7 separate regions of the Homo sapiens genome follow, and regions 2, 3, 4, 5, 6 and 7 are each linked to region 1. Evidence: fine-mapped QTL for protein levels in blood plasma. A gene starts in region 1. Each other region holds a variant in brackets. All regions are shown on one strand. Distances are between the middles of the regions.

The links. PIP is the chance, under the fine-mapping model, that this variant and not a neighbour inherited with it causes the effect. Protein levels are from antibody-based Olink assays in UK Biobank. Linkage for the fine-mapping came from a reference panel and not from the study's own genotypes, which makes the PIPs less certain.
Region 2: its variant is fine-mapped to the plasma level of the GNPDA2 protein (UK Biobank, PIP above 0.99).
Region 3: its variant is fine-mapped to the plasma level of the GNPDA2 protein (UK Biobank, PIP above 0.99).
Region 4: its variant is fine-mapped to the plasma level of the GNPDA2 protein (UK Biobank, PIP above 0.99).
Region 5: its variant is fine-mapped to the plasma level of the GNPDA2 protein (UK Biobank, PIP 0.95).
Region 6: its variant is fine-mapped to the plasma level of the GNPDA2 protein (UK Biobank, PIP above 0.99).
Region 7: its variant is fine-mapped to the plasma level of the GNPDA2 protein (UK Biobank, PIP above 0.99).

What each region holds. Positions count from the first base shown.
Region 1 is chr4:44,723,713-44,728,280 of GRCh38, reverse strand. GNPDA2 (glucosamine-6-phosphate deaminase 2) reads left to right here and starts at 1,725. Exons shown (of 7, transcript NM_138335.3): 1 at 1,725-1,807. RefSeq lists an enhancer at 1,393-1,522 and a silencer at 2,015-2,309.
Region 2 is chr4:44,712,192-44,716,759 of GRCh38, reverse strand. The region is part of intron 4 of GNPDA2 (glucosamine-6-phosphate deaminase 2); the gene reads left to right. Among named protein-coding and RNA genes, the nearest start is that of GNPDA2, 12 kb to the left of the region's middle. The variant T/G (reference allele first, on the strand shown) is at 2,108.
Region 3 is chr4:44,962,266-44,966,833 of GRCh38, reverse strand. It overlaps LOC124900850 (a long non-coding RNA gene), which reads right to left and starts at 964. Exons shown (of 2, transcript XR_007058449.1): 1 at 881-964. The variant T/G (reference allele first, on the strand shown) is at 2,181.
Region 4 is chr4:44,799,200-44,803,767 of GRCh38, reverse strand. It overlaps LOC105374440 (a long non-coding RNA gene), which reads right to left and starts at 3,498. Exons shown (of 3, transcript XR_925278.4): 1 at 1,901-3,498. The variant A/C (reference allele first, on the strand shown) is at 2,825.
Region 5 is chr4:44,806,880-44,811,447 of GRCh38, reverse strand. No RefSeq gene overlaps it. Among named protein-coding and RNA genes, the nearest start is that of GNPDA2, 83 kb to the right of the region's middle. The variant C/T (reference allele first, on the strand shown) is at 2,153.
Region 6 is chr4:44,138,069-44,142,636 of GRCh38, reverse strand. No RefSeq gene overlaps it. Among named protein-coding and RNA genes, the nearest start is that of LINC02475, 120 kb to the right of the region's middle. The variant G/A (reference allele first, on the strand shown) is at 2,291.
Region 7 is chr4:44,130,798-44,135,365 of GRCh38, reverse strand. No RefSeq gene overlaps it. Among named protein-coding and RNA genes, the nearest start is that of LINC02475, 120 kb to the right of the region's middle. The variant T/C (reference allele first, on the strand shown) is at 1,965.

The sequences.
Region 1 (4,568 bases):
CAGAGGTTGCAGTGAGCCAAGATTGTGCCATTGCACTCCAGCCTGGGTGACAGTGCGAGACTCTGTCTCAAAAAAATAAACAAATAAATAAAAATAAAAATAGAAATAGAATGAATACACTCTAAAATAATGATAAAGAGTATAATATAGCAAATACATATACCAGTAACATAGTCATTTATTATCAAGTATTATATCCTGTACATAATTGTATGTGCTAGACTTTTATGAGACTGGAAGCACAGTAGGTTTACACCTATGTAGCCACAAACACGAGTGGTGTTGCTCTACAACTTTACGTTTACTACAATGTCGCTAGGTGATAGGAATTTTTCAGTTCTGTTATAATCTTATGGGACCATTGCCAAATATCCAGTCCATTCTTTACCTAAACTTCCTTATGTGGCACATATCTGTAATTCAAGACTGTAATTCAGTCTCCACCTTTCTACAGCATTCTTTCTAAAACACGTATGTTCTAGTCTCTTATCTTCAATTCATAAAGCTTAAGTGACTCCCTATTGCCTACAATACAAAGCCTAAATTCTATGCATAGCCTACAAACTACTTCATCATTTTACCTCAATCTTTTTTGGAGAGACAGGGTCTTGCTATGTTGCCCAGGCTGGTCTCCAACTCCTGGGTTCAAGCCATCCATGCACCATGACCTCTGAAAGTGCTGGGATTACAGGCGTGAGTCACCGAATCTGGCCAAAAATCGCTTTTGCAAACTTACTGAAGGCGATAGTACTAATAAACCTGTCTATTATCAGTATGTGAGCAATGTTGCTGTTTGAAGCTAAATCAACGAGAATGTAACATCCTACTCTTCACTAAAGGATGCAAGAGGAGTCATTACATTCAAAGAAGCAGGCTGGATTTACAACCCAGGTGAAAAACTTCATATAACGAGTTTGAGGACACAGCGTTTTACATTTTTTTAACTTGTAGTTTCCACAGAAACAGAACCTTAAGTTGGCTAGGAGTCAAGATTGTATTGTTCCTAACAGAACCCTAAACGGTGTTATTAATGGAACAGTGTTCCTGATGGAACATGGTGAAGACACAACACACTTTTCTCCTTTTGAATGATAGCTGCTTTCTTTACAATAATTTCCACAGCCCAATTCCTTCCCACTCCTGTATAAACATCTGTGATACCCAGCTCAAAGCTGATTCCAGCTTCCCCTATCCCTTTCTTAGACTCATTCAGCAAAAGCCAGTACCCTATTATATAGTGTTTTCTCTTACTGAGACGCTCCCGATTTCCCATGGTACTGTTTGCCCTTTTGCAAACTTTGATGAGTTTTTTGACACAAGACGCTTATCTGTCATTGCGTTTGCAAATATGCATTCAATAGCTTGGAGTAGAGAGAGAAATGTATTCATAAATGGCAAATATATTCATGTTGCCAAACAGCAACATAAGCAACAAAGTACGTGTGAGCACTACGGTCTTACATACTAAATCTCATAAGCCTAAAGAATCTACTGCAAATCCCTCTTTGAAAGATGGGGGGGAGGGGAAAGTAGCGTAAAGTGATGACCCAGAAACTGCGATCTTCCAGGCAAGAAGAGCGCCCAGCCGCACCGCACTCGGACCGAACTCCTCGCGTCTCACCTCAGGCGTCCTAAAGGCGGTGCGCATGCGCAGCGCCCGCCAGCCACGCCGCGGTTCCTTCCTGCGCCTTTATCTGCATCCGGGTCCGTGGGATTCGCGCTCCACTGGTCAGCTGGGGTCGCTCTCGGGTGGTTGGGTGTTGCTTGTTCCCGCTGTTCCAGCATCGAAGAACCATTGGGTCTGCCGGTAAGTTTAGCGGGGGGTGCGGCGGGGGCGCCAAGAAGGGGACTCGGGTCGGGGGACCCGACGGCAACTTCGCCCTGTGCGGCCTTTGTGCTGAGACTGGGACGCCGGGCCGGGGCGGAATGGGTGCTCAGGAACCTCGAGGCTGGGGGCGCGTGGGGTCTCCCGTATTGCCACTCGCGGACCTGGTTGTCCTCTCCGGATTTGTGCCTACGGGAGAAGGCGTCCCTGCCCTCTCCTCTCTCGCGGCTTCTTCTTGACACCTCTCTCTACACTCGTTAAAAATTCCTAACAGTCATCCTCATTTGCATTCGCTGTCCTTTGCCAAGTGAGGGCCAGGCAAACGCGCAGCTGAGGGGAATCTGCAGCCCCCGCCTCCCGGGCAGGAACCACAGCCTTCTTTGCTGTCTCTCGTCCCTCCTCGGGTCGGTCCCACACGCGCGGCCAGGCCACCCTTACGCTTTCAGGACAGGTCAGGTTGAGTAGGGAAAAGCTCAGAGCAGAGGTTCTGCAAGTGTAGATTCTGGTCTTGGCCCCGCCATTAACTAGCTGTGTAACTTCACGGGTGTAGAAGTTGTCATCCACCATTGAAGTTTTGCGATTTATATTCAGCAGCCCTTTTTCCTAGCGATGCACATCCAAAATGAATCAGCACCTGAAGGAAGACGAGGGAAAGGGTGGTGCTCTGTTGTTTTTTGATGCTGTCTTGTGATGCCAGAGAATTGCATAAGGCGACAATAGTTTGGATCTCTGAGGATTGGCAAAAACTGGAAAAGTCAAATCTTAAAAACTTAAATGTGGTGAAGAAATTCTTCTTTGCTCTGGGTGAAGGGATTCATTTGGGACTTTTGGAGGTGACTCTGCGCCCTCCAGAGAGTTTAAGAAAACAAAAAGTTGCCTGTACCTTGGTCTGAGAGACTTGCTTAAACTTCGTTTCAGTGAGATGTGTGGTGTTCTTAACAAATTTCACCTGATTATGAATATCCCCTGTGATAATTTGCAAAAGCAGAGATTCCTTGGACTTCATTTCAGATCTTTTGAAACACTGTGTCTAGGGAGAGGGACCTGAGAATCTGTATTTTTAACTAGCATCGTAAGTGATTCTCAACCGGTAAGACATCTTTGGCTAATGTCTCTTTGAGTCAGAAACACTTAGTTTTAAAGCCAGCTCCCCGGGCCACTTTTTAACGTCAGCAATAAACTTCTCGTAGTTGCAGTTTTCTGTATATGAAGAGTGAGAATAATGCTTTCAACCTCAGAGACAAGTGATTCTAAGCCCTTTGACAATAGAGTTAATCATTTTTGTGTCTACAGAACCTAGCATAGTGCTTAGAATATAATAGGTCTTCAAACGTGTGTTGAACTGAGAAAAATAACATGCCCAGGATGCAGAAGACATTGGAAAGCTCTAATGCTTCTCGTCCTCCTTACCTTATTTTTTTTCCGTTTTATTAACAATCAGCTGGCCATATATTCTTGTTAGAAGTAAATATATCTTTTGATGTTCATTACAGCCAATAATTCTTTCTGATTCTTTGGTTTAACTCTAAAATTGTTTTTGACATTAGATTATGGATTATATTTAAGTGGAGGCTGAGTCCAGTTGTTGGACTGAATTTATGACTTACTATGTAATTTATTTTCTGTAAATAAATAATTGTTATCGGGCCAGAATTCTAGATCATGGTGACCATGATTTTTTGTTGTTGTGTCAGAATTCGAAACTGTTACCTTCTTAAAGACATTTAGATTCCATACATTTATTTTAATAAGACCTTTTAATCTCATTAATTTAGAAAATTTGACTTATTACTCTATGTAAAGTGTGTGGGTACAAAACTCAGGAATGCTGAAACCATGTTATAAAAAGCTTGGTATTGGTGACTGATCCATTTAATATAAAAATAAGAATTAAAAATCTAAGAATTATGGGAATTATTACAGAATGTTCAGTAAATGTTATAAGGGGACGTTTATAAACTATTGATGGTAATGTCAGTTCAACTTCTGTAGAAAAAAGTATGAAGATTTCTCAAAGAACTGAAAATAGAACTACCATTTGATCAGGCAATCTCACTACTGGGTATCTACCCGAAGGAAAATAATTCATTATATCAAAAAGATACCCGCATTCATTTTTATCTCAGCACTATTCACAGTGAGGCAGTAGAATAGGGTCTGGAGGCAGAGGACTTAAGGCCAATTCGTGCTGACTTCCTAAAGCTAAATCAAAGGAAAACACCAAGGTCTGGGGGCAGGAAATCTAAGGCCAATTTGTGCTGACTTCCTAAAAGAGAAAACACCTGCGTCTGGGGGCAGGTAACCTAAAGCCAGTTAACCAATTAACGCAAACTTCCTAAAGCTAGACCAAAAGGAAAAAACCCATCTCCCCATGCCCAAGTAGCAAAGGACCAAAGGCTACTCTCCCTACGATCGACTGCCTTCCACCACCTCTCAGATGGAAGGGGAAAGTGCCTTGGATTGTCCGTGGACTAAGCATGGGCCATCCCTTCATCTGCATAGGGAGCCAATTCACCTCAGCCTTTAATTAGCCACGGACCAAATCCTTCATGCAGATAAGGGGTAACCGATAAGGGACCTCAAAAGGAGTATTAAAACCCAGAAAACTTTGTAACCGGACCCTTGAGCCGCTTGCTTGGGCCCACTCCCACCCCATGGGGTGCTTTCTTGCTTCAGTATCCCTGCTTTCGCTGCTTCATTCCTGTGTTTCGTTCCTTTTGTGCAGTTCTTTGTTCAAAATGCC
Region 2 (4,568 bases), 12 kb after region 1:
AAAACTCTAGCCAGCCTACTTATCAAATTACAGAGTTTAAACGTTTGCATGAGGAACAGGTGGATTTTAGTAGATTACTTTAATTGTTTCATCTTACTGAGTAATCAGTTAAGAATGATGTAAAACTTTTTACTTACCAGCCTTAAGTTAATATGAGTTAAGCTGTATAATTGTCATAATAAATTCCAAAATTAATGTTTAATTTACCAAATTCCACTTGTAATTTATATATGTGTGTGTATATATAATCTACAGTTAAAAATAAGTTTTTTCCTTTGTAATGACAACGTGGTTTTCTATTATCAGTGTAAACTATCGCAGACAGCTAGCTAATTGCTATAAGAATAGTTCAACATCAACTAAACTAAAATCAAAATTTTTTGCCAGATTCTTTAATATTCAACTAAAAATACTAATGCTGTAAATTATCTGTATATAACTTATTATTAACTTAATAGAACACTGATCAAAATTACATGAATTTGATCTTCAATAGAGCTGTCCTGAGGTTAATTTATACTTGAAGTGGCCAAGTATGGTTGAGATAGTTGATTATCATTGGGGGAAATTTGGTTTTAAAGTCAGACGTAAAATTGTATCCTGTTTTAGCCACTTAGTATCTGTATGACCTGGGAAAGTTTATTGAAGTTCAGTATAGGTACATCATTTGTAAAAGAGGATTAATATTAAACATTCCAAAATTTGTGAGAATTAATCATGTTGTAACATGTATAAAATGCCTTACACAGTGCTTGGTATATAGTTGGTACTCCATAAGTGCTACTTCAGTCTTCTCTTTCTCTCTCAACTGTAAATGCGGAAATAATTGTCCCTTAGAATTACTGAATTCCTTGGGATTTTTACCGAATTCCCTCTAGGGACATCCAGGAAGACTGAAATCTTCTCTTTAAGATAGTTTTTACTTCTACCTAGCAGAGTCAATAACATTTACTTTCTTGATAGAATGGTTGTTTATTGGAGCAAGAAACCAAGTTAGACTATTGCTTTTCAAATTAGAAGGTTATCTGTTTTAAATAAAATTTACTAATATTACTTCAGTAATCCTAGAGAACATTTGCATACTCCTGCTTTGTACGTATGACTCAATTTTGAGATAATTAACCATTTGTACCTTCCAATATTCAGGCTAGACAGTAGATATTTGAGAGTGTCTGAGGGGTGCATAGACCATCTAATCTTTAGATTTTCTAAGCTCCACACCAAAATCTGGTAGAATTACTGGAGTACCACATACTTCAACTGCTTATATCAAAAAATGTTTTCACTCATTTACTATAATGCAAAAAAAGGCTCTTAGTTGTTTGAGGTTCATTATTAAAAGTGGCTGCTTGAAAATATCTTCATTTGTAGACTTTCTTTCCCCCTTGTTAATTTATTGACCTTACATAAGTATGCATGTGACAAATCTCTTGTAGACCCAAAGGTAGGAAATAGATTTTACTATGGGGAATAACACTGATAAGAACACTTGATTTTATTCCTTTGCCTGCCTTCCAGAAAGCATTCATAGCATAAAATAATGTTTAAGCCTGTAATTCTTATCCAAGATGTCTGGTAGAACTTTCCTCTTTCCTTATAACTTTAAATCATTTCGTACTTCTTTTCAGCTAATTTTTTTTGGGAGGGGGTTATGTTTCTTCAGTATAAACCACCTCAGTTCTCCTTTTGAAATAGATGTTGCATAAGTTATAATTATATATGTTTATCACTGACACCACTAAAAAGAATTTGACTTGGTTTTTTAACCAGTTTGTCTTAAGCTTCCTGTAGTTGTTTCCCCGCTCCTCCCCGCTCCCAAATATATTTTAAGAGAGTTCCTGTGCCTCTTACATTAACATCTTCACTGTAGTCATGGATGATCCAATGCCTGACATTTTATATGTACCATCTAAAGGACATAATTGTGCAGAGAGAGAGAAGGATTATTGCATTTTCTTTGAACTTTTCCTTATTTGGGATGCCCTATTATTGGATATGTATTCATGAAAGAATCTCATTTGTTGATCTAGGTTTATCATCATTGGATTTTTAGATGAGGATTGGCATCTGGGTCTTACAACTACCCTTCTTTTGTTCCAGGGTTTGG[T/G]TAATAAAAACTCTAAGAACTGTGCCAAATGGGATCAAAATATCAGCTTTATTAAAGGTAAAGTTGAAATAGAGATTGCAGTTTGGGCTTGAAGCCAGAATGGGGTTTTTCACTCCTGCCCTTTGAATTGGAAACAGTAGAATGAGAAGAGCTCAAAAATGTTAATCTGCTATTGCTCATTCCAGGGAATTAGAGCAGAGGTCCCTTTCCTCTGAGGGAAGAGGGAAAGAAAAAGGAGGAAATACATACTCAAATGTTCTAATTCCTCCTCTGATGGCAAACGTGTTCAGAGAAAGGGTAAAAGGTGTATCATGCAATTCCTGACTTAACCCCAGCAATAAGATATACAAACATGGATTTTTAAAAATAAAATCTAGGGCTGGGATCCGGTGGCTCACACCTATAATCCCAGCACTTTGGGAGGCTGAGGTGCGCAGATCACCTGAGGTTGGGAGTTCGACACCAGCCTGACCAACATGGAGAAACCCCGTCTCTACTAAAAAAAAATACAAAATTAGCTGGGCGTGGTGGTGCATGCCTGTAATCCCAGCTACTCGGGAGGCTGAGGCAGGAGAATCACTTGAACCTGGGAGGCCGAGGTTGTGGTGAGCTGATATCGTGCCATTGCACTCCAGCCTGGGCAACAAGAGTGAAACTCCGTCTCAAAATGAATAAATAAATAATTTTAAAAATCTAGTTTTACAATAAAATCTAAATATATAAACTTTTAAAATATCTTAACGCAGTAGTGTCTTGGGTTTTTTGTTGTTGTTGAGACAGAGTCTCGCTCTGTTGCCCAGGCTGGAGTACAGTGGCTTGATCTTGGCTTACTGCAACCTCCACCTCCCAGGTTCAAGCGATCCTCCTGCCTCAGCCTCCTGAGTAGCTGTGACTACAGGCACTTGCCGCCATGCCCGGCTAATTTTTGTATCTTTAGTGGAGATGGGGTTTTGCCACATTGGCCAGGCTGGTCTCGAACTCCTGACCTCTGGTGATCCACCTGCCTTGGCCTCCCAAAGTGCTAGGATTACAGGTGTGAGCCACTGCACCCGGCCTAATAGTGTTTTTAAAAAGTAAAAATAAAAGAAGACAGTGGAGAAAATGTTAACCTTCTGATTTGGTTGCATGCTTGGATTCTTTGCTTTGGTAGAAAAAGGAAATAACTAATGGGATCAAAAGTAAATTAACTGGAATGATTCTAGGGTAACTCACAAACTGAAGGAAAAGTTAAAACAACCAAGTCTTTGGAAAAACAGAGAACCTCAGATCTCAGAAGTAGAAACTCATCAATCTTCTCCCTGCAGTGCTGTCATCCAGTGCTTCAGTTCACCATGCTGTCTTCGTTAACTGTATCCCTGGTCAAGATTCAGATCCAGACAGATATTTTGATTGGCTCAGCCTGAGACAAGTGCTTATCTCTAGACCACAGTCACTTTACCTAAGAGGGATATAGGAAATTAAAATTGTTCCAGCCCCTCTGGTGAGGGGAGCAAGGCAGAAGAGAACAAGGTGGGAGGTGGAATAAACTATACCGAGCTGACCAAAGAATAGCAACCATACATTCATTTATCCAGCCATTATTTAATAAGTGCGTCCTATGTGTCACTTGTTATTCTAAATGGTAATATAGTAATGAAGATAAAGCCCTTACTTTCATGAAGAGTGCATGTACATTCTACCCTTAGAACTGTAGGAACACAGGAATGACATTTACTCCAGACAGTGAGTTTTAGAGATGTTTCATAGAGGTGCTGATATCTTAATTTAGACTTAAAGGCTGAATAAGAATTAGCCACATTTAAAAAAATAATTTTATATCAGGAACCTCAGTTATTCATAGCCAACAAGCAAATACCTTGACCCAGCTCTGTTATTAACCTTTGCTCATAATTTCAGCTTAGCTGTACACTTCTATAAGGCCCAAATCATCAGTGAGGTCAGTAGTAGTAGATCTTAGTAGACTTCATATTTTTTTCCTGAAGCTTGTATTTTCCTGATCCCATCCTTCCCTCTACACATATATAGAGAAATATAAATGTTAGGGATATGTATACCTAAGAGGAGAAACAGAACACTTTTACAAATCTAGATAATTTAATGTCTATAATTAATATATATTTATAAGCAGATACATACTTAATAGTAGAAACAGTCAATGCATATTAACCATATGTAGGTCTGGCCTTATGTCTCCATATTAAAAATTCATAAATTGTTGTACTTTGGCATTCTGTACTTGCTTCAATAGAGTATTCATTTCTTCATTTTTCAAAACTGGGTTACTCTTTGTCATATTTTATCTTCTTGTGGCCTGGGAAAATTTTGTTAAACTTGTGTGCTAAGTGTCAGTAAAATACAGATATCATTAAAGTAAATATGCAGAATATAAATGTAAAAGATATTTTAATGACTCAAGGAATTGGCAGATTTATTTTTTGGCTGAGGTTACCAGAAATGTGAC
Region 3 (4,568 bases), 240 kb before region 1:
CACTTATTTTCATGTATAGAGAAAGGAAGAAAAAGAGAGAGGCCTATTTTAAATTCCTTGATCCATTCAGTCACAGAAAAAGGAAGTAACCATTCATAAGAGGAGTCTTCCCACTTAGACAAAATATACACACCAATGTGGCTCAGTCAATTGTTATGAACTTGAACTAACCAAATTGGCATGTCCTCTTTCTTTAAAGAAAATAAAATCTAGTCAAGCAAAGGGGTGAGTTGTTGTGAAGAGGGACTGGGGAATAATCTTTCTCTATAAATCAAAGCTGTCAAAGACATGAGATGCCTCAAAAATATTAAATTAGAAATTGGAAGACCAACTTAGGAATTCTGAGGGAGAAATGCCTGCAGTGATATGGCACTAAATTTAATGTTCTTAAGAGGGCATATGGGAGAGGCAGAGCACATAACCAGTGGAAGGCTAGGGCTAAGTGTGAGTGAGGGAAAGAAAGTGGCAAGGAGAATACAGAGAGAGCAGTCTAATGATCAACATTAAACACAAACACAAAACATATGTTGATCAATCTACAGTTTTTTTAGCAAGAAGTTTTCAGGTCATTAAAGACCTCAATATTTTATGAGAGTCACAAATTTTATTGCAAAGCATATTACACTATTCCAAGGATTAAGCTGATAATATCTTCACTGTTTTTAGTCACCCACAAAATTATATAGCCCCATAGGAAATAAACAGATTACTTTTCACTAGTCAAGAAGAGAACGTGCAGATTCCAGTTTCTTTGACAGAGGTACATTTCTGAAAGGACTGGCTGCTCTTCAGACTCTTATAGAATGGAACAATTCATATCACCTCTGGGATGAATTGCAATGATGTTAGGACTTTAAAACAGAAGAGTGCCCATTGTTACCTTACTAATGAGTAATCCCAGGGAAGCAAAATCAGATTAATCATTCAACTTCTCTTTGAAGAACTCTCAAGGGAGCTCTGCTTAAGGAAGAATGCTAGAAAGATCATGATGGAACACTCATATTTGCATTATTCTACACAAGACAAAACAAGCTACCAAAGTAACAATAGAACCTAGCGTCAAAAGTGAAAACTGCTCTAAAAAGGGGTGGAAGTGACAAAGATGAGTTGTTATATTTTCTTTGCATTTGGGCTGGCTCTGTTTTCTCATTTCAATTCCTTCTTGGAAAAGTGGTAGCTTAAGTGCTGTGTGTGTGTGTGTGTGTGTGCGTGCGCGTGTGGTTCACGCCTGCATGTGTCTATTCCTAAGGCAATCGTAGCCCATTCACTTTAGTGACTCATATTTTGAAAGGCACCAATTTTCTTTTTCTCTTTAATAGGAGGGTGCCTCTTTTCTTTGGTTTTTGACCTCTTTTATGCCATAGGAAATGTGATTTTTGGACACACTGAGATGGAACTATTATTGTTATATTGTTGGGTAGTAGTGATACAGCTGTGGACCATCATTAGGCTAAGATGTTTTAATAACCATACATTTTAAAAAATAGCCATTTGAAAATAAGGCATAAGAAAAAATTTCAGCATATTTATCACAAGATGTAAAATCTTTTTTAAACCAGTAGTATCATCAGTAATTGATATCTAGTTGAACAATAGAAACATATGTATTACTGTGGTAATATGTGATTAAAGATGTTTTTTTCTTAGTATTCATTGCCAAAATCTTTAATTATTAACTTTTTGTGTATTGAGACAAACTGACATCTTAAAATTGATCTACTGAAGCCTTTCTTTCTTTCTGAAAGATGTGTGTACATTCTTTTTTAAGTAAAATTCGACCATTTTTAAACCATCTGTTAAGGCAAAGTATGTTTTTCTCTCACAGGCTTACTACATTTTCTGTCAATACTCACTCTTGTCTTCTGTGACTTTCTGTCCCTGGACTATCATCATTTTCTCTTAGGGAAACTAATACAGACAACTGATTTAGTTACTAGGCCTGCTATTACCACTTGACTTTAATTCACATAAAATAATATGCTTTTTACAAATGATTTTAAATCAGAATTTCAGGTCAAGGGAAGCATATTTGAATGATATGTGTTTCATCATTATCTCTTCATAATTTTTAGGCAATTGCTGAGAAAATTTAAGATATATATTGCATGCTAAAATACATATTGCATGGTAATCTTAAGATTATCTTCCTGGTATTCTGCAACTTGGTAAAGGGTAATTAA[T/G]AGTACTCAGCCTCTCTTATAGATACGTTTTACTAACCCAAACAGTTGGTAGAAATGACTTTTTACATTTTGTCACAATCCAGTAATAGGTAACATGGTTCAGTGTATGTAATATGAAGTAGTAGCTACTGATAGCAACAGGAGACAGACAAATTCCCAGGTAGACAGGGACAGACCCAGTGAAACCTGACCTTCGAGCCAAAGACAGTTTAAAACCTGAAAACCGAGCTGCTAGTTCCAGATAGAGTTCAAGACCAGAGTGAAAACATCTATCCCTTGTTGGAGGCCGAAAGACTGAGGGTCGTGATCAACTCAGTATACCACTGGAGGCTATATGACTAAACAGCAAACTGTTCTCATAAACACAGAATGTTGGCAAACTGACAAACTACATCTGCCACCCAGAAAGAATGCTGAGGGCAATCATGCCCCAAGTCCAATGTTTCTTGTGATTAGGTACATCTGAAGCCTGTTAGTAATAATATGAACCTGTGATCAATTAAGCAGCTGACCAATCATTACCTCCTCCTCCTTGCTCTTGTTACCCGATAAATATGAAGGGCAGTGGAAGCTCAGGGGCTGCCTTTGCCCACTAGAAGCAGGGAGCTCTCTTCTTCCCCTGGACCTTTCCTTTAAAACAGTCTCTTTTGTTTTTTATTATCATTTTCTATGTTCATCCCTTTGTTCAGTCTTGTAATGATGGTCTCAAGCAGTAACAGTAGTAACTGCTGTAATGACAGCCTCAAGCAGTAACAGTAGTAACTGCTGTAATGACGGTCTCAAGAAGTAACTGTGACAGTCTGCCACAATCCCTGTCTTACTCTCTTTCTCTATTGTTTCCTTCTGGATGATGCCTTTTAACCAATCAGATGGTTCTTTTTCCAAGACCACCCATACATTCCCCCATTCTAAGCCCATAAAAACCCTGGACTCAGCCTCACAGATGGCTACCTGTTTTCAGGGTCCCCTCTTGCAGCTGAGAGCTTTTCTTATGTTACTCAATAGCATTCTTCTCTGCCTTAGTCTCTCTCCCCTGTCTGCATACCTTATTCCTCTTGGTCATGGGACAAGAACCTGGAACTCACCAAGCTGTGGGCAGTGGGAATGAAAGAGGTGTAACCCTCCTGTTTGCCAAGCTTCAGGGGCAAAAAGGCCTCTGATTGCCACTCCCTCCTGCTTGCCAAACTATGGGAAAGAAAAACCTGATGAGTCCCACTCCCTCCCACTCACTGAACTACAGAAAAGAAAAAGCCACAATATTTTCATGATGGAAAACAAGATGAAATTAGTTCAACTTGCAAGAAATAAAATCTTGAATGGATAAAATTATAACTATTGTCCATAAGAATTGTTAAATGTTGCAAAAGGCCAGAAAAAGAGTCAGTCAGGGTGCTTAAAGAAGTAACATGTAAAGATTATGAGAATCCCATTTTCCTATACTTTTTAAATAATGTATACATTTTAGGAGTTTTTCATATCCAAGAACCTTTAATATATGTTTTGAATAAAACGACTTATTTTTCTAGAATAAATTTAGTTTTAAAAAAGGAATTCTTAAATTAATACAAAACATAGAATATCAAGTATCATTAGCCATAAATAGAAAGTAATTAAAGTAAACCAATGCAGTGAAAGTGAAAAAATGTTATTTACTTTATTTACTTGAGTAAAGAACTATCACAGATAATTACATTAATATCATTTTGTGTTGGCTTTAGATCTCAAAATATGACAAGTATTTACATTGGCCCTAATTCTTAATTGCAAGCCACCAGGTAATCTTGATTAAGTTTCTCAGTGAGCAATCTCTATAAACTCTTCTGAAACTTGCATTGCTGTCTCTAAACACTTACCCATAATGTGGTCATTTCTTTTTCAGTAAAGTGATAGCACAGGTTCTCTTATGGTATTAAATAAATCTTCCAAAGAAGAAATTAAATTTTTTCCAAGATGGTAGATTAGAGGATTTTAGCATGCCTCAACCGTTTGGAAATAGCAAGCAATACATAACGATAAACTCTGTGGGGTTTAATTCGAGAAGGAAAAACAGGAATCCACCAGAATTGTGAATAAGACCCCAGATCCCAGGGAGGATGAAGGAAAACAGCTCCCGTGATGACATCCAGCTAGTAGAAGTGAATGAAGCCTCAGTATGTGAGAGTGGCAGAGAGCCTCCCTCTGTAGCTTACCTTTCCACTGGAGACCTGAGCAACCCAGGCCAAGGGAAAGCACTTGGTCTTCTTATAAGCACTGGAGCTAACAGGGGGATAGGATTGGAGACACTGTGAGGAAAAGACAAGGAGGAAAGCTGCAAACATGTTCTCACACCAGGGATTTAGGGCAAGATGCCAATTTTAATCCAGGGACATATAAAGTCAGCCATTCTTT
Region 4 (4,568 bases), 75 kb before region 1:
AGTGGGAGTTCACAGTTTTGGGCCTAGGCACAGTTCCTATATCACTATGAAATGGACACTGTGGCCACTTCATCTATGAGCCTATTTTGCCAACATTGGAGTAGTTGTTGAAAGAGTCTGGCTAATGACAATTGGCTAGGCCATTTTGTGTACTTGGTTGTTTAGTGCCTCCTCAATTGTTGATATTCGCTGGTGGTTATTATGTGAAATACAAAGATCCTCAAACTTCATTCACTCCCATATGTTCAACCACATACATTTATCCCACATCTTCTTGTCCATGATCTTCCAATCTTTTTCCATGAATGTGTGTGTGCATTCTAACCTTGGGTCACTTCTCTTTTCATACTAAGTCAAGGCCTGGATACATCACAATCACTCTCTCCATTGGAAAGATTTTTTCTGTACCACAGTTTTTCAAGGCATCCTTGAGTAAGGTTATAGCATAGCTGGTATCCATATTTGGCCTATACTTACATACCAAGCTGACCCATCTGGAAGCCAAACTCAGAAATTTTTCATTTTTTTAAATTTTAGTCCTACAGTATGTCATACAGCCATAGAAATGAGCTGAGAAAGAAATGCTTGTACTATTACTTGTGGGAGCCATAGGGACCTCAACTACCTGTTTATGCAAATTTCTTGTGTCCTCTGAACCTGTTTGTGCTCAATCCTGGATATCACACTTTCATCTTATAATAGGGTTACTGTTGGTATTATCTGACTATGGCTTAGTAACACTTACAGGACCTAGCTCATGATAGTTCTGTCCACATGGTCACTTGCAGTCCCATGGTCAGGCCTGGTAGCTTGTCAAGAGTTATTTTTCAAAAGACATAATATTCCCTGGTTTTATGGCATTTCTCCATTACCCCAGGAACCTCTCTTGTGCTTCACACAAAATCAACATGGTCCCATTTCCTATCACTGATACTTCCAACATGTAGGTTCCAACAGATTGCATAGTTCAAAAAGAAATACTGCTTATATCACAGCCTCAGTCTGCTCAGAGCTCTTTCCTGCTCCATCCATACTCAAAGATAGCAACTTTTAAAATTTGTTTTGTCACTCAGCATCCAGGCAAAGCAGTATCCCTAGGTGTTAAATAAGCTGTCTCCAGAGCATAAAGTAGCCCACAAAGCACTGTGCTTTCTTAGTCATGGCAGAATAAGAAGCAATATGTAATAATTTAACTTTGACTTTGGACAAGGATGTACTGGCAGCCTCTGGCCACTGAACCTCTAAAATTTTACTCAAGTGGTCAGCCCCCAAATCTTTTAGGGTTTATTTCCTACTCTCTGGAGCAAATTTGTCTTACTGAGCCTGCAGCAAGACTAGCCATCTCTTGCTCATCCAGCCAGATCTACATATTATTGATGCAATGAATCAATGTAATAGTCTTCAGGATATAAAAAATGGTCCATATCTCTTTAGACTACATTGTGAAAAGAGAATTAACATAGTCCTGGAGAATAACTATATACCTGAGGCCATATTAATCATTCTAGCAAAGATACTTTCTTTGGCACGGTAGTTGTAGTTAGAGCTACTATTTACTTGAGCTTGCTGTAATGCAGAGTCATTCTACAGGATACATCTAGTTTCTGTAGTGGCCAAACTGGTAAGTTAATATTATATGTGATAAATATCACCATCCCTTCATTTTTTAGATTCTTAATAGTAACTCTATACTCTCCATCTATGCCCAGTTTTTCACTGTGCACTATTTTTTTAAATTTATTATCTTGGCTGAAGGCAGAGAGGGCATATTCAGAAGCTTTCATTAGGCCATTGCCCTGCACTCCAAGGACCAAAAATGCAATAGTGCCATCTTACAAGCATCTAAATCCCAATTATATAGTCAGGATAAATTAATATATAATTCAGGGTAAATGATTACCATGGGTTGTGAATGCACAACCTCAGTGACGTTTCCTCCCTGCAACTGAGCCTGGCCCAAAGGAACTGAATGTAGGAAATTCTTGGTTGGCTACCATCTTCAGGGTTGGGCAATAATTCCTTCGTTGAAGGGGGAATGGAGTTGCACAGCTCCTTGTCTACAACAATAGATTAAAATTCAGATGTAAAAGTAAACAGACAACTAATGAGAGGAGAATAATGTAATAGGGAAGAACAGGCTTTCAGAAATCAGCAATTTGTAGTTTCTAAGGGGAAAGAGATGATGCAATAAAAGTCCAGTTAGGAGCCAAGATAATCCAACAGATAAGAGAGTTGTATCACTACAATTGTCAGTAGCAAACAAAAGCAACACTCCACCTCCCCCTAAAATGAAATGTGATTTGTATAGATATCAGCTTCAAAGTAATTCCCCATGCTCTTTTTGCTACCTTTTTGCTGCTTTTGAACCTCACTTATAAAGTCTCTTAAGCCAAAATGGTTTGTAGACCATAATCAGAAACTTAAATTTAATTCTAAACATTAAGAAATACCAATTCAAAAGTTTTTTGTCAGAGTAGTGATATGATCTGATTTATACTTTTACTAGTTCTCTTAGGCTTCTCTATCAAGACTGTATTGTGAGGGGAAAAGAGTAATAAGTAGGCATTCCAGTTAAAAGACCATCACGCAAGAGTTCTGGAATAACAAAATAAGTCAGCTCCAACATAAGCACAAAAAACACTTGCCCAAAAAATGGTCAAAATCAACTTTTTTTACATTCTAGAAATTACCAAAGGCTTGCAACATTACAAGGAGCATTTTTTTGAAGAAAAATAGCTGAGTCTTCATAACGACAGCCAGTTTTGTGGCATGTTAATTTTCTCTATTTGCATCCCCCTTGCCACAGCTCTGCAATATCCTTCAA[A/C]ATAATCAGTCTTGCAACAACAGTAGCTGTAAAACTCAACAATCTAGCAGCTACTGGAGAGGGCACTAGATCATCCCCCTAAGACTTACATACAAATATTGTTACTGTTTGGCATGTTTGGCAGCTCCCTAGAGAATTCTCATTCACAGAGCTTGTTTTTGTTTTATGTAATTCAGTATTCACTCAGTGGTATAAGCTCTATACCCAAGACATTTGTCAGAAACAATCAGTGGTAACTGTTTATCACAGCCGATTAGGGCAGCAATACCAATTGGAACAAACAAACAGAAACTAACCAAAAACTTTAGGTCTTAAAGTTCTAAATCTTTAAGGAATATGGGGAATAAAATGTTCTTAGGAAGACATACATCTAGAGATCTAGAAGGCCATGAACATGTGCAGGGCAATGTGCTTGCCCAGGAACAGTAGGAAAGGCCATAATCTCTCACCTCTGGCTGATGATGAGACTCTACAAAGCAGGATGTGAAGACTAAGGTAGAGTTGTTAATCAATGAAATCTTGAAGGCATACACTGACACACACTGTGTTACAACATAGCAACAACAACAAATATGAAAGTGAGGAATTCTGATGTCAACATTTTTCATATTATGCAATTTAAAATATCTAGTTTTCCACAAAAATATTGTGGCATACAAAGAAAGAGAAAAGTATGGCCTATGTATAAGCAAAAATACATTCACTAGAAGATATGCCTGAAGAAGCTCGGATGTTGGTTCACTAGACAGAGACTTTTAATGAGTTAGATATACATCTGTATGTGTGTACACATATATAAACATATTTTTCAAGTACTAATAAAAACCATGTCTAAAGAATTAAAGATATGTATAAGAACAATGTCATAATAAGGAAAATCAATAAAATATAGAAATTATTTAAAAAAACAAACAAAAATTCTGGAGTTGAAAAGCATAATAAAATTTTGAAATTTTATTTTGAAATGAAAATTTACTAGTGGGGCTCAACAGAAGAGTTGAGCTGGTGGAAGAAAGAAATAGCAAACTAGTATCTATTTTACTAGAAATAGAAAGATAGGTTAGTTGAGATTATCTAGTTGTATTAGTCCATTCTCACACTGCTATAAAGAAATACCTAAGACTGGGTAATTTATATAAAAAGAAGTTTAATGGGCTCATGGCCACAGGCTGTACAGGAAACATGGTGGCATCTGCTTCTGGGGAGGCCTCAGGGAGCTTTTACTCATGATGGAAGGCAAAGTGAGAGCAGGCGTCTTACATGGCAAGAGCAGGATTGAGAGAGAGGGGGGAGTGCCACACACTTTTAAACAACCAGATCTTATAAGAACTCAATGTCACAATGACATCACCAAGGGGGAATGGTGTTAAACCATAAGAAACTGCCCCCATGATCCAATTACCTCCCACCAGGCCCCACCTCCAACACTGGAGATTACAACTGAACATGAAATATGGATGGGGACACAGATCCAAACCATATCATTCCACCGCAGCCCCTCCCAAATATCATGTCCTTCTCAAATTGCAAAACAGTCATGCCTTCCCAACAGTCCCCTAAAGTCTTAACTCAAAAGTCCAAAGTCTCATCTGAAACAAGGCAAGTCCCTTCTTATCTATGAGCCTGTAAAATAAAAAAAAGGTTAGTTACCTCAAGATATGAATGAGGTACAGGAATTGGATAAATATTCCCTTTGCAAAAGGCAGAAATGTACCAAAAGCAAGGGGCTACAGGCCCCATGCAA
Region 5 (4,568 bases), 83 kb before region 1:
ATCCCACAGAAATATAAACAACCATCATAGAATATTATCTCTGCACATAAACTAGAAAATCTAAAAAAATGGATAAATTCCTAGACACATACACCCTCCCAGGACTGAACCAGGAAGAAATTGAATCCCTAAATAGACCAATAACAAGTTCTGAAAATTGAGGCAGTAATAAATAGCCTATCAATCAGAAAAAAAAAAAAAAAAAACCCAGGAGCAGATAGATTCACAGCTGTACTCCACCAGAGGTACAAAGAAGAGCTGGTAGCATTCCTACTGAAACTATTCCAAATAATTGAATAGGAGGGATTCCTCCCTCATTCATTCTATGAGGCCAGCATCACCCTGGTACCAAAAGCTGGCAGAGATACAACAAAGAAAGAAAACTTCGGGCCAATAGCCTTGAGGAACATTGATGCAAAAATCCTCAACAACATACTGGTAAACTGAATCCAGCAGCACATCAAAAAGCTTATCCACCACAGTTAAATAGGCTTCATTCCCACGATGCAAGGTTGGTTCAACATACGCAAATCAATAAATGTGATTCATCACATAAACAGAAATAAAGATAAAAACCACATGATTGTCTCAATAAATGCAGAAAGGCCTTCAATAAAATGCAACATCCCTTCATGTTAAAAACTTTCAATAAACTAAATATTGAAGGAACATACCTCAAAATAATGAGAGACATATATGACAAACCTAAAGCCAATATCATACCGTAGAGACAAAAGCTGGAAGCATTCCCATTGAAATCCAGCACAAGACAAGGTTGCCTTCTTTCACCAATCCTATTCAATAGAGTATTGGAAGTTCCTGCCAGGGCAATCAGGCAAGAGAAAGAAATAAAGGGTATTCAAATAGAAAGAGAGGAAGTCAAATCAGTTGGCATGTTCCTATATCTAGAAAACTCCATCACTGTGTTTCAGCCCAAAAGCTTCTTAAGCTGACAAGCAGCTTCAAAAAACTTTCAGGGTACGACATCAATGTGCAAAAATCACTAGCATTCTAATATACCAACAACAGTCAAGCCAAGAGCCAAATCAGGAATACAATCCCATTCACAATTGGCACAAAAAGAATAATCCTACACAAAAAGAACAAAGCTGGAGGCATCATGCCAACTGACTTAAATCTATACTATAGGGCTACAGTAAACAAAACAGCATGGTACTGGTATAGGAACAGACACATAGGCCAATGGAACAGGATAGAGAACCCAGAAATAATAGTGCACACCTACAACTATCTGATCTTCAAAAAGACTGACAAAAACAAGCATTGGAAAAAGGTTTCTCTATTTAATAAATAATGCTGGTAAAACTTTCTAGCAATATGAGGAAAATTGAAACTGGACCTCTTCTTTATACCATATACAAAAATCAGGTCAAGATGGATTAAAGGCTTAAAGGGAAAACCCAAAGCTGTAAAAACCCTAGAAGAAAACCTAGATAATATCATTCAGGACACAGTCACAGGCAAAGATTTCATGACAAAGACACCAAAAGCAATTGCAACAAAGGCAAAAATTGACAAAAATTGATTAAACTAAAGAGTTTCTGCACAGCAAAAGAAACTATCAACAGAGTAAACAGAGAACTTACAGAGTCAGAGAAAAAATTTTCCAACTTTGCGTCTGACAAAAGTTAATATCCAGCATCTATAAGGAACTTAACAAGTTTACAAGAAAAAAAAAATTAAAAAGTGGGCAAAGGACATGAACAGACATTTCTCAAATACATACATACATATATATATAATATATATACATATATATATTATATATGTACATATATAATATACATATATATGTATATATACACATATATATGTATATATATATATACAACCAAGAAACATGAAAAAAATCTCAATATAACCGACCATTAGAGAAATGAAAATCAAAAACACAATGAAATACCTCACATAAGTCAGAATGGCTATTATTAACAAATCGAAAAACAACAGATGCTGGTGAGGTTGTGGATAAAAGGGAATGCTTTTACAATGTTAGTGGGAGGGTAAATTAGTTCAATCATTGTGCAAGACAGTGTGGCAATTCTTCAAAGATCTAGAGACAGAAATATTATTTGACACAGCAATGTCATTACTGGGTATATACCCAAAGGAATATAAATCATTTTATATA[C/T]CCATAAATTTTTTATTTTACACCCAAATTAAAAAGACACATGTACATGTATGTTCATTACAGCACTATTCACAATAGCAAGAACATGGAATAAACCTAATGCCCATCAATGAGAGACTGGATAAAATGTGGTACATATACACCATGGAATACTATGCAGCAATAAAAAGAAACTAGATCATGCTGTTTGCAGGGATATGGATAGAGGTGGAGGCCATTATCCTTAGCAAACTAACACAGGAACAGAAAACCAAATACTGCATGTTTTCACGTATAAGTGGGATCTAAATGATGAAAACCCATGGACACATGTAGGGGAACAACACACACTGGGGCCTGTCAGAGGGTGGTGGGTGGGAGGAGGGACAGGATCATAAGAATAGCTAACGGATGCTGGGCCTAATATCTAGCTGATGGGATGATTGGTGCAGCAAACAACCATGGCACACATTTACCTATGTATCAAACCCGCACATCCTGCACATGTACCCCTGAACTTAAAAGTTGGAAATTAAACAAATAAAATAAAATACAGATGAACAAAAAATAATCGATTATATTTCTGAAAGTTCCCATAACAATTGACTAGAAAATAAAAATGTTAAAGGACATACTATTTACCGTGGCATCAAAATTATGTAATATAGTAAATCTAGACCAGATGTATAAGGTTTCTACATTGAAAACAATAAAACATTATTGAAAGAAACTAATAAATACTTATATAAATGTAGGGGTATAACGTTTATTTTGGAAAGACTTGATATTATGAAGAAATAAATCCTTCAATTCTTCTAAAACTTCTCAAAAGGTCATTAAAGTTACAACAGGATGTGTGGGTGTGGAGTGTGGTAGTGTGTGTCTATCTTTACAAATTATCTTAAAATTTAAATTGAATGTAACAGACTCAGAATAGTCAAAATACTATTCAGACAGACAAAGACAAAAGAATTATCACTAAAACAACTGGAAAAAATATTGGAAAAAATTAAATGTACTCGTGTCACATCATAAATAAATATCAAAACTAAGTATAATATAGGTGTAAATGTAAAAGACAAAACTAGAAATTTTCAGAATGTATTATAAGAGAATATCTTTATGACCTTGGAGTAGGATAAAGCTTTTTAAACAAAACACAAAAAACACTAAACCAGAAAAATTTTTTAATTGGACTACATGAAAATTAAAAACTTATAGCCTTCAAAAGATATAATCAAGGGAGATAAAGGCAAGCCAATGTACGGAAGAAAATATCACACACATATATGAATATATAAAGAATTCTACAAATCAAAAATAAAAAGCTAGCCAAAATAAGCAAGACAGTTAAACAGTTACTTCATAAAAAGGACAGTCCTAATGGCAAATAAATACATGAAAATATTTTAATCTTAGAAGTAATCAGAGAACTGAAATGAAAATCCCAAAGAAATACCACTAGAAACCCATTAATGACTAAAATTGAGACTGAAACATTTTAACAGGGATATAGATTAACAGAAACTATCACACAATGCTGGTGCAATTATAAACTGGGACAACCATTTTGAGAAGAGTTTGGAGTAAACTACTAATATTGAAAATACGCACATGCTATAATAGAAATTCCACTCCCATCTATATAACCAAGAAAGATGTGGACACGTGCAGCAAAAGATGTACACAAAACTGCATATTATTTACAAACATTTCAAACTGGAGAAAGCCCAAATGTCTACCAACATTAAAAAAGAGGAAGATCAAGAGAAGTTGCTAAATGGGTACAAACGAGCCATCCAATTGAAGAAATAAGAACTAGCGTTAGATAGATCAGTAGAGTTAATATAATTTGCAGTCATCTATTATACATTACAAAGTAGCCTTTTGAATTTGAATACAATTTTGAAATAGAATTCAAATGGTTCTGGTATAAAGAAAAGTCAAACATTTAAGGTAATGGATATCCCAAGTACACAGATTTGATCTTTACCAACTATATGAATGTATTAAATTATCACATATATCCCAAAATTATGTACATCTATTATGCATCAATTAAAAAAATAAAACAAAATGGATAACAATTTGTGCAATAATAAAACAATAGAATACTATGAATCAATGAAGGTGAACAAACTGCTACAAGCAACAACATGGATGAGTCTCACTAAACATAAACATTGATCAAAAGAAGCAGATAAAATGAATCATTTACTGTATGATTTGATTTATATGAAGTTTGACAACAGATGAAACTATAGTGTAATGATTAGAGATCTGTGCTTCAGTGAAAAAACTGCAAAGAAAAAAGCATATATTATAAAAGTCAGAAGCATGTTTACTTTGGAGGCTGGGGTGGTGAATCAGTGTTTGGACATGATCAGTACTGGACATGAGGGGGAATTTTGTGGTGGTGGCATGTTTTATTTCTTGA
Region 6 (4,568 bases), 590 kb after region 1:
CTCAGCCTCCCAAAGTGCTGGGATTACAGGAGGGAGCGACCGCACCCAGCTAACAAATATTTTTAAATTGTCCTAATCATTTAAGCTTTGGGTATAGAAGATTTAATTTTAAAAAAGAAAAATATCCTCACTCTTATGGAAATTATACTCTAGTGGCATGAGATGAGAGAAGGTCAGAGGAGACACTTCAATAAGTAAGATATCTGGTGTGTTAGATATTGATTAGTGTTTTGAAGTAAAGACAATGGGTAGAGAGTGTCATCTTTGTCCACTTGGACTGCTATGCGGAATGCTGTAGACTCGTGGCTTTGAACAACAAAAATTTATTTCTCATAGTTCTGGAGACTGGAAGCCCAAGAACAAATCACCAACAAACTCAGTATCTGGTGAGATCCTGCTTTCTGGTGCATAGATAGCCATCTTCACAATGCATCCTCACCTGGTAGAAGAGGAGAGGGAGCTCTGTTGGGCCTCTTTTATAGGAGCACTAACCGTGTTCATTAGGGCTGCACATTCATGACTTAATTACCTCCCAAAGACTCCACCTCCTAAGACCACCACACTGGGGATTAGGATTCAACATATTAATTTGGGGGAAACATAATCATTCAGTGTGTATCAAGTGTCAAGGTCATGGCAGAGGAACAGTGGCTTGCAATTTTAAATTGGATCTTTAGAAAAGCCCAAAACAAGAAGTGGATTTTTGAATAAAGACTTTTAAAAGTTAAGAAAAACAAGTGAAAACCATTTAAAAGTTCTTTTATGAAACTAAATATATTCTTACTATACAATCCAGAAATTATGCTCCTTGTTATTTATCCAAACAAATGAGAACTCACTCATGTCCATACAAAAGCCTGCAAACAAATTGTATAGCAATTGTATTTATAATTAGCAAAACATAGAAGCAACCAAGATGTTCTTCAATAGATGAATAAATAAACAAGCTGCAGTACATTCATGCAATGAATTATTAAGGAACTAAAAAAATGAGTTATCAAGCCATGAAAAGACATGAATGAACTTTAAATGCATATTGGTAAGTGAAAAGTCATTCTGATAAGGCTGCATACCATATTTTTCCAACTATCTGACATTCTGGAAAAGGAAACCTAGGGAGATAATAAAAAGGTCAGTGGTTGCCAGGGCTTTTGGAGAAGGTTGGGAGAAATAAGTAAGTGGAATTCAGGAATTTTTAGGGAAATTAAACTATTCTGTATAACACCATAATGGCAAATACATGTCATTATACATTTTTCAAAGCCTATAGAGTTTACAACACAAAGAGTGGGCCCAAGTGTAAATATATAAACTATGGACATTAGTTGATATTATATCAATATTGATTCATACATTGTATCAAATGAACTGCATTAATGAAAAATGTTAATAATAGGAGAATGGGATTGGAAGGGTTGAGGAACTGTATGAGAACTCTATATACATTCTACTTCATTTTTATGTAAACTGAAAACTCCTCTAAAATGTGAAGTTTATTAAAAATAATTTTTAAAGGTGAAGGCAAAATCAATTTGGAGAATCAGTTCAATGGAATTCTAGCCAAAGGGAAGAACAAATGCAAAGACCCTGAAGCAGAACCTGCCAACATGTCAGGAGTGAGGTGTGGCTTTGGTCTCAATTCTTGTGTCCCCTCAAAATGTATATGTTGAAACCTAATCCCCAGTGTGACAATATGAAGAGGTGGGGCTTTTGGGAGGTAACTAGGTAATGAGAGATTAATAATTTTATAAGAGAAACCCAAGAGAGCTCGCTAGCCCCTTCCACTATGTGAGGATGCAGAGAGAAGTAACTCACTAAGAGGAAAAGGCCCTCAAGCAGACGCTACATGTGTTAAGTGCCTAGATTTGGGACATTCTAACCCCCAGAACTGTATGAAATAAATTTCTGTTATTTATAAATTACTCAGTTTATGGTATTTTTGTTATATGCAGCCCAAGAAGACTAAGGTGAGGATCATGAAAGGTTTTTTAGCAGAAGAGTGACATAATTTGGCTTAAATTTTAAGTGAATCATTTTGTCTTCAGTGCTGAGTGTATTGTGCAGTAGGAGCTGGTAGAAAGCAGGTAGGCTATTTAAAATAATTCTGGAGAGAAATAATGGTGACTTGAACATTTGGACCAAAATCTTTGGCCTGAGTAACTAGAAAGATAGAGTAAAACTTTACAGAGATAGAAGAAAATATGAAAATTAAACATTGGAAGATAAAAGGAGAAATTCTTTTTTGATTGTGCTGCTGAACTTGAGACACCTAATAGACATCAGCATCAAC[G/A]TATTGATTAGGCACTTGTATATTCAATTCTAGGTAGCAGTCTGGCAAGAGTTATAAATTTAGTAGCTGTCCAGTGTAGTCAGTAAGGACCTAAGAATAGAAAAAAAATAATGTAGATAAGAAAGAGATTTAGGAACTGAATCCTAGGGTGCATCAACATTTTGGGGTTAGGTAAAAGAGAAGAAAGCTACAAAAGGAACTCCAAAGGAGGAGCTAATGAGATGGAGAACAATCGTGTGTCCCAGAAACCAAATAAAGAAATTATTTTAAAGAAGATAAATAATTGAAAAGCTATTGGAAATGCTGCTGATTTTCAATGATGAACCCATCAATCCTTTCCTTGACCCATGGAATTTTCAGTGATGGGTCAAGGAAAGGATTGAGTATAAGTTATTGGTTTTAGTTATGTGAAAATAATCAATGATATTGAAAATAATTTTACAGGTGTGTTGGAAAGAAATCTTGATTGTAGAGGACTCAAGAAGGAATTGGAGTTTAAGAAGTAAAGATAGCCCAAATACATAACATTACAAAAATGTTTTGCTACCATATGACATGTAGAAATGGGATAGCAGCCATAGTGTAATATGGAAACAACAGAGGTTTCTGTTTTTGATTTTTAGATGGAAGAAGAGAAAGATGGCTAAAGTGAAGTTGTTTAGTAGGTTTGAGGTTACTGTGAGAAAGTGGATGGGTTAGTCTTCACTATGGTCTTTTATCTGTAATAACAGGAAGGAATACAGACTGTATAGTGACAAGTATAGCTAGATAGGAAAATGTCAAAGTGCGAACTTGTGAAAGTTATCTTCTGATTGCTTTTATTTTTTCAGTGAAACAGGAAGCAGTTATCATATCAGAGTAAGGATGAAGTGATAGTGGTTGGAAGTTTAAAGAGAAGAAAGCAAGCAGGAAAATGCTTGTCTAGGAGAGTAGGGATGTAAATAAGTGAGTAAATGTAGAATGGTGCGGGAGGCCATTGAGGACTCACTTGAAATTTGTGGCCAGAAGCAGAAGTAAAATCAGTTAGCATGGATCATTTTTTCAATAATATCCAACTAATTGGGTATAGGAATAGAGAATGTAAAGAACTGAATTTAACTAGGGTTGTAATTTTTTCAGATAACTTGGAGAAATGAAAGAAGGGATAAATATTGGATAAATATACAGGGCACAGACTATAGGAATGGACCATATATTAAACAGTAAACCAGAAGTGAGCACATTTCAGGGGTGAGGGTCAGACAGAAGATATTACAGTCAATTACTTTTAGGTCCTGTTGAAGTTGAACATTTAAGAGTTGATGTATGAGAGAAAGAACTGGAGAGAAAGAAATGACTATGTAAAGTGGCATACTTTAAGTTGAGATCTGGGGAGACTTCCAGTCTTTGGTATTGGCAAAGTCTAAGACAAGCTATGGGGGTAACTGTCTGAGGTGGGGTGGAGGTCAAAGCATTAAAAAGAAGAGGTCAAAGAACTGTTGGGGGTGTTCTGATCTGGCACTTAAAGAGCTTGGAAGTCACCATTATGCCTTACAACAAGTAAAAGGCTGAACAAACTGAAATCCACAACTTTTCTTTGATCTCTCAGAAACTTGAAGTCACAAGGAAAACTGTTGCCTCTCTCACCCAAATTGTTGAGACAGAAAGGCAGATAAAGATAACCAAGTTTACCAGACGGGAGACCCACTAGCAGAAACCTTTGTGAGAACCAGCAGTGGGGCAGGAAAATCTGAACTACAATTGATGAATTGTTGGACGCTCAGTGTGAACAAGTCTGGAGTTAAAAACTCCAGTCTTAGGGTATAGGCTTACATTTTTGTGCGTTTTCCCTCCAGTAGCTTCCATCAGGGAAAGGAAAAAAGTAGCCAGAGCATTCTGTTCTCCAGCAGGCCTGCCCTCAGGAAAATCTATTTTACCACCTACACTATTGGGGTTTTATCAGAAGCTAACTGACCAGGGGGACGGGAATTACCCAATTCCAGCCTCCTCTAGCCATCTGGTCTTGCCTAAGAGGGGAAAAATCTGAGAAGCACTTGTGAGGATCACAACCTAGAGACACTGGCTCACTAAGAGGCTGAGACCTAATCATAGGATAATAGAATGTTTCACCTCAACCCATACTTTATCACTACATTATTTTTTAAATTATATTTTAAGTTCTGGAGTACATGTGCAGAATGTGCATGTTTGTTACATAGTTATACATGTGCCATGGTGGTTTGCTGCACCCATCAACCCGTCATCTACATTAGGTATTTCTCCTAATGTTATCCCTCCC
Region 7 (4,568 bases), 590 kb after region 1:
ACTATAAATATAATAGCCAAAGGATCACTCAATCTATCATCCACCTATATATTTATCTATCTACATATGTATGTGTGTATATATATGAGGTGTTGTGTGTGTGTGAATGTGTGCATATATATATATACCACCTCTCAGAGAGAGAGAGAGAGAATCCTAAATAATTGTCAGTTTCTGACTAATGTGACTGGATAGATGATCATCAAAATAAGGAACAGTGGAAAGACAGATTCTGGAAGAAGGATGAAGGATCAATTTTGAGCACATTGCATTAAGGTTCTTGTGGAACACTGAAGTGAAGGTGAGAAGGAGGAAGAAATCCAGGATGACTTTTGAGTTCATATATTGTCTAACATGGTAGATGGTCATGTCTTATTAACTGAGATCAGGAACATGTAAGAATGACCAAGTTCGAAAGTAAAAATAATTAGCTAATTTAAAACATAGGGAGTCTAGATACCTGTGATGGTTAATTTTCTGACTGTGCCACTGAGTGCTAAGATGGAACATTATTTTTGAGTGTGTTTATGAGAATGTTTCTGGATGAGATTTGCATTTGATCTGTAGACTCGTTAAGGTAAATTGCCCTCTTCAGTGTAGAGGGACATCCTCCAATCCATTAAATGCGTGAATACAAAAAAAAGGCAGAGGAAAAAAGAATTTGCCCATTTTGCTTCCTGACTGCCTATTTGGGCTAGGACATTGATCTACTGCTGCTGCCAAGAACTGGGATTAATACCATGGGCTCGCCTGGCTCTCAGGCATTCAGACTTAAACGGAATTACAGTACTGGCTTTTCTGGGTCTCCGGTAGATAGCAGATCATGGGACCAATGTACTATTCGTTTTGTTTATCTGGAGAACCTTAAGACCAATTTCTCTCTCTCTCATGATAAAAAAAAATGTAGGTAGGTAGTCTAAGTTTAAGAAAAGAATCACTAAACCAACCTGAGTGTACCTTGATAATGGACTGTTCTCCAGCTTTTAATGTTAAATATTAGAGACAAGGAGCAAACTTGCAAATTTTCCTGTTATAACCTAGTATGTGAGACACAGTTTGGTTATTTGGACAGAACTAAACTTTTCTCTATTTCTAATGTTAAGTTACTTTTATCCTCAATCTACAGATGAAGGAACAGACTCAGAGATGCTAAGTAGCCAGCTCAAAAATCAGACAGGTAATAAAAGACAGACACCTATCTTCTGACTAAATCCCATGCTCTTTCTTTGTAATTTACTTCCATGCTAGAGTTTCCAGCTACAGGGATGAGGTGCTGGCGGAAGGGCAGTGCTGAGAGGTGAGAGGATTGAGCAAAAAGGGCTAAAGTATAGGGTATAGTGAAAAATAAATTATTGTAGAAGCTCACAGTGTTCAGGGGCGATGAGGAGGGATTAATTAATTATTTATATAATGTGTTTTCTAGAGAATCTATTAGGAATATTTCTTTATTAAAACTATCAATGTATTTTTTGTGTGTGTTCTAAAGCAGTTAAGGAGAGGTAAAGTTTGTATTTCCAAGATGCATGTATATATGTGTGTGTGTGTGTGTGTGTGTGTGTGTGTGTGTGTATCTATAAATTTTTAAATCAGATAGTGACTAACTTTCTATAGTCTTCTAAGTCTTCTGTTAAGCTCCAAGACTTAGCCTATGTATATTCACAACTTTCATAGAAATTATTTTTTTTGTAACAACATTCAATGTATAACTTTACTTTTACTGTGAGAGACTGGTAGAGTAATAATTCTCTGCTGACTAGAAAACTACTATTTTCATACATACAAAAGCTACTTTTTTATGCAGCCAGAAAGACATGATTTGAAACTCTAAAGTATTGATAAAAGCCTATTTTATAACGCATTATCTCCCTTCTGCCAAAACAACACCTATTCTCAAATCTTAGGGACGAATCTGTTGGAATTTGTAATACATTTTCAACTATAATTACCCTTCTAGAAACATGGCG[T/C]ATGTCATGCTTTGTGGAATGGCCATATTTTAATAATAGCTGTATCTGAAGTAGTACAGTATTTGTTATGGCAAAGAAAAGTCATTTCTATGTATTGCAGTTGTAAGTATATATACACTAAGCTTTAAAGTTAACAAAAAACCTATATCAATTAAAAAAATTATCTGGCTATGAAATTAAAATAATTGAAATATCTGTATTAATGATATCAGCATCATTTACAAAGTTGTCACTTAGCAATTGTCTGAAGTGACTTGCTTCAAAGTAATTGGAGATATTTGAGGGAAAACAACTAAATCACTTAGAATTTGTTGGCAACCAAAATAGATTATAACTAATTAATTTTAGGGCAAAAGTGTTCATTCATCCATTCACGAATTCATCTATTAACTCATTCTTTCATTTATTCAGCACACATTTGAGTGCCTTTTTTGTACCACACATTTGTACTGTTCAATAATGGTTTTAACCAAGGATAATAGCACTCACCTAATGGGAATGTAGAACTTTGACTTGGAGTCTTACAAACATGTATTGGCTTGGGGCCATGAACACTAAGTGTTTTACAAAGTTAAGAACATTTCACTGGGAGCTTGGTGCAGTGGTTTACCTGTAATACCAGCACTTTGAGAGGCCAAGGGAAAGCAGATCGCTTGAGCCCAGGAATTTGAGACCAGCCTGGGCAACATGACAAAACACCATCTCTACAAAAAATACAAAAATTAGCCAGGCATGTTGGCATGTGCTGTCCCAGCTACTCAGAAGGCTGAGGTGGGAGGATCACCTGAACACAGGGAGGTCAAGGCTACAGTGAGCTGTGATCATCCCACTGCACTCCAGCTTGGGTGACAGACTCAAATAAAAAAAAAAAGAGAGAGAGAGAGAACATTTTACATAAAGAGAAAATTTTCCACTTCAAATTTTAAGTTAATAACACTTACATTGAGAAATGCTGTGTGTACATTAAAGAGAAAAACATAGCCCTTAACTTCAAGGGACAAATAGCCTAGTGGAAAAAACACAGGCACAGACCAAAACGTCTTCGCTTATATGGCAAGTGCTCTTATGGAGAGACTCCTAGGCTGTTACAGAGTCACAGCCCAGCAGAGAGGTAAGAGGGGGCATAAAAGCTTCCTCAGGAAGATAGTCTCTGAACTTAAGTTTTGGAGAGCCATAAGAATTAGCCAGCAGGAGAAGAAGAATAACAAGTACTCCAGACAGAAGAACTGAATAGCAAAGGCAAGGAGGCACATGGAGAATGGTGAGTGTGTTCTGGAAGGTATGTGGTTGCTTGGCTTTTCATAGGATAAGTGCAGAAATGATAGGAGGTAGATCCTGACAACATGAAGGACAGGTCATGAGGTGACTTATGTGTCACAGGAAGCCTTAACATTTTAGTTAAGCAGGTAAGTCGAAGTGGCAAGATTAGTTCTAAATGTTAGACAAGCATCGTTGTGATGGTTAAATTTGGGGCGTGAATATTGAAGATGGTGAGGCCAGATAAGAGGCTGTGGTTCCTGGACTTTCTGTGGTCCCTCCACTCTCCCTTCCTCCAGACCATACCTTTTGTATTCCATCTTTTCTTTGTGGTTTGCAGATGTCTGAGAAGACCACCAGCCCTTCAGGGAAAATGGAAAGAGAAACAAAAAGAAGGAGGTAACAAGAACAAGTAAGAATCTGGAGATGAAGCTCCAGCAGAGTTGGCGGGGCGGGGTTGGGGGGTGTGGGGAATTACAAAAAACAAGAGTCTGGGGCAGTAAACCATGTGAGGAAAGGTGAGACTTTACCTAAAGCAATGGAAGGAAGAAAGAGTGAAGGAAAGCGATTTGTGAAAATACCATAGATTTCCTTGCCTTTTGCTATGTACTGATATGCAAGGAAGCCTGGTGTCAAAGTAATGCTTTTTCAAGGACTTTAAGAAGGTCTATCTTCCCTAAATATATGTCTTACTGTTTCCTGTTGTCTGAAATACCTTTAGCACCAGTTGAGTAAATTTAGTTCAGCAGAACAGATTGGAACCGAAATTTATTGACTTGGATAAAGCAGTATATCAAGTTTAGCTAGTAGAAATAGGAAGTGTTGCATCAGTGAATTTAGGGGCGCATACCCAGATTACAACCTTATGGAAAATCAGGGCAGGATAAAAAAGGAGAAAACTGCAGAATGCTTGCATTTTTGTGATTACAAGAGTGAAATGAGCCAAGAACAAAGAGCAAGTGAAAGAGCATGTCTCACTGAGCCTCAACCACCCATTATTGCACTTGCAGTGACTCTACCCACAGGCTAAGAATATTATGCTAAACAAATATGTATAAATTAATTTAATAGAAAACATGGGAAAATTTGCACTGAAGGATTATTATTATTATTTTTGGTGAATAAAGAATAAGATAATTCTTGGATGGCCTTGGGCTGGATCAGTGGAATTTTACAGTCTAAGTTTTTGAGAATTTGAGACTTGCAGATCTGATGGAATTGCCTAACTGACTTAATAATTATAAGCAAACAAACTAATACTTTAAGAATCCATATTGTAATACCTAAACTACCGTATAGTGTTAGAGAATGGAAAAAAATCCAAAACTAAAGGACAAAGTATAGATG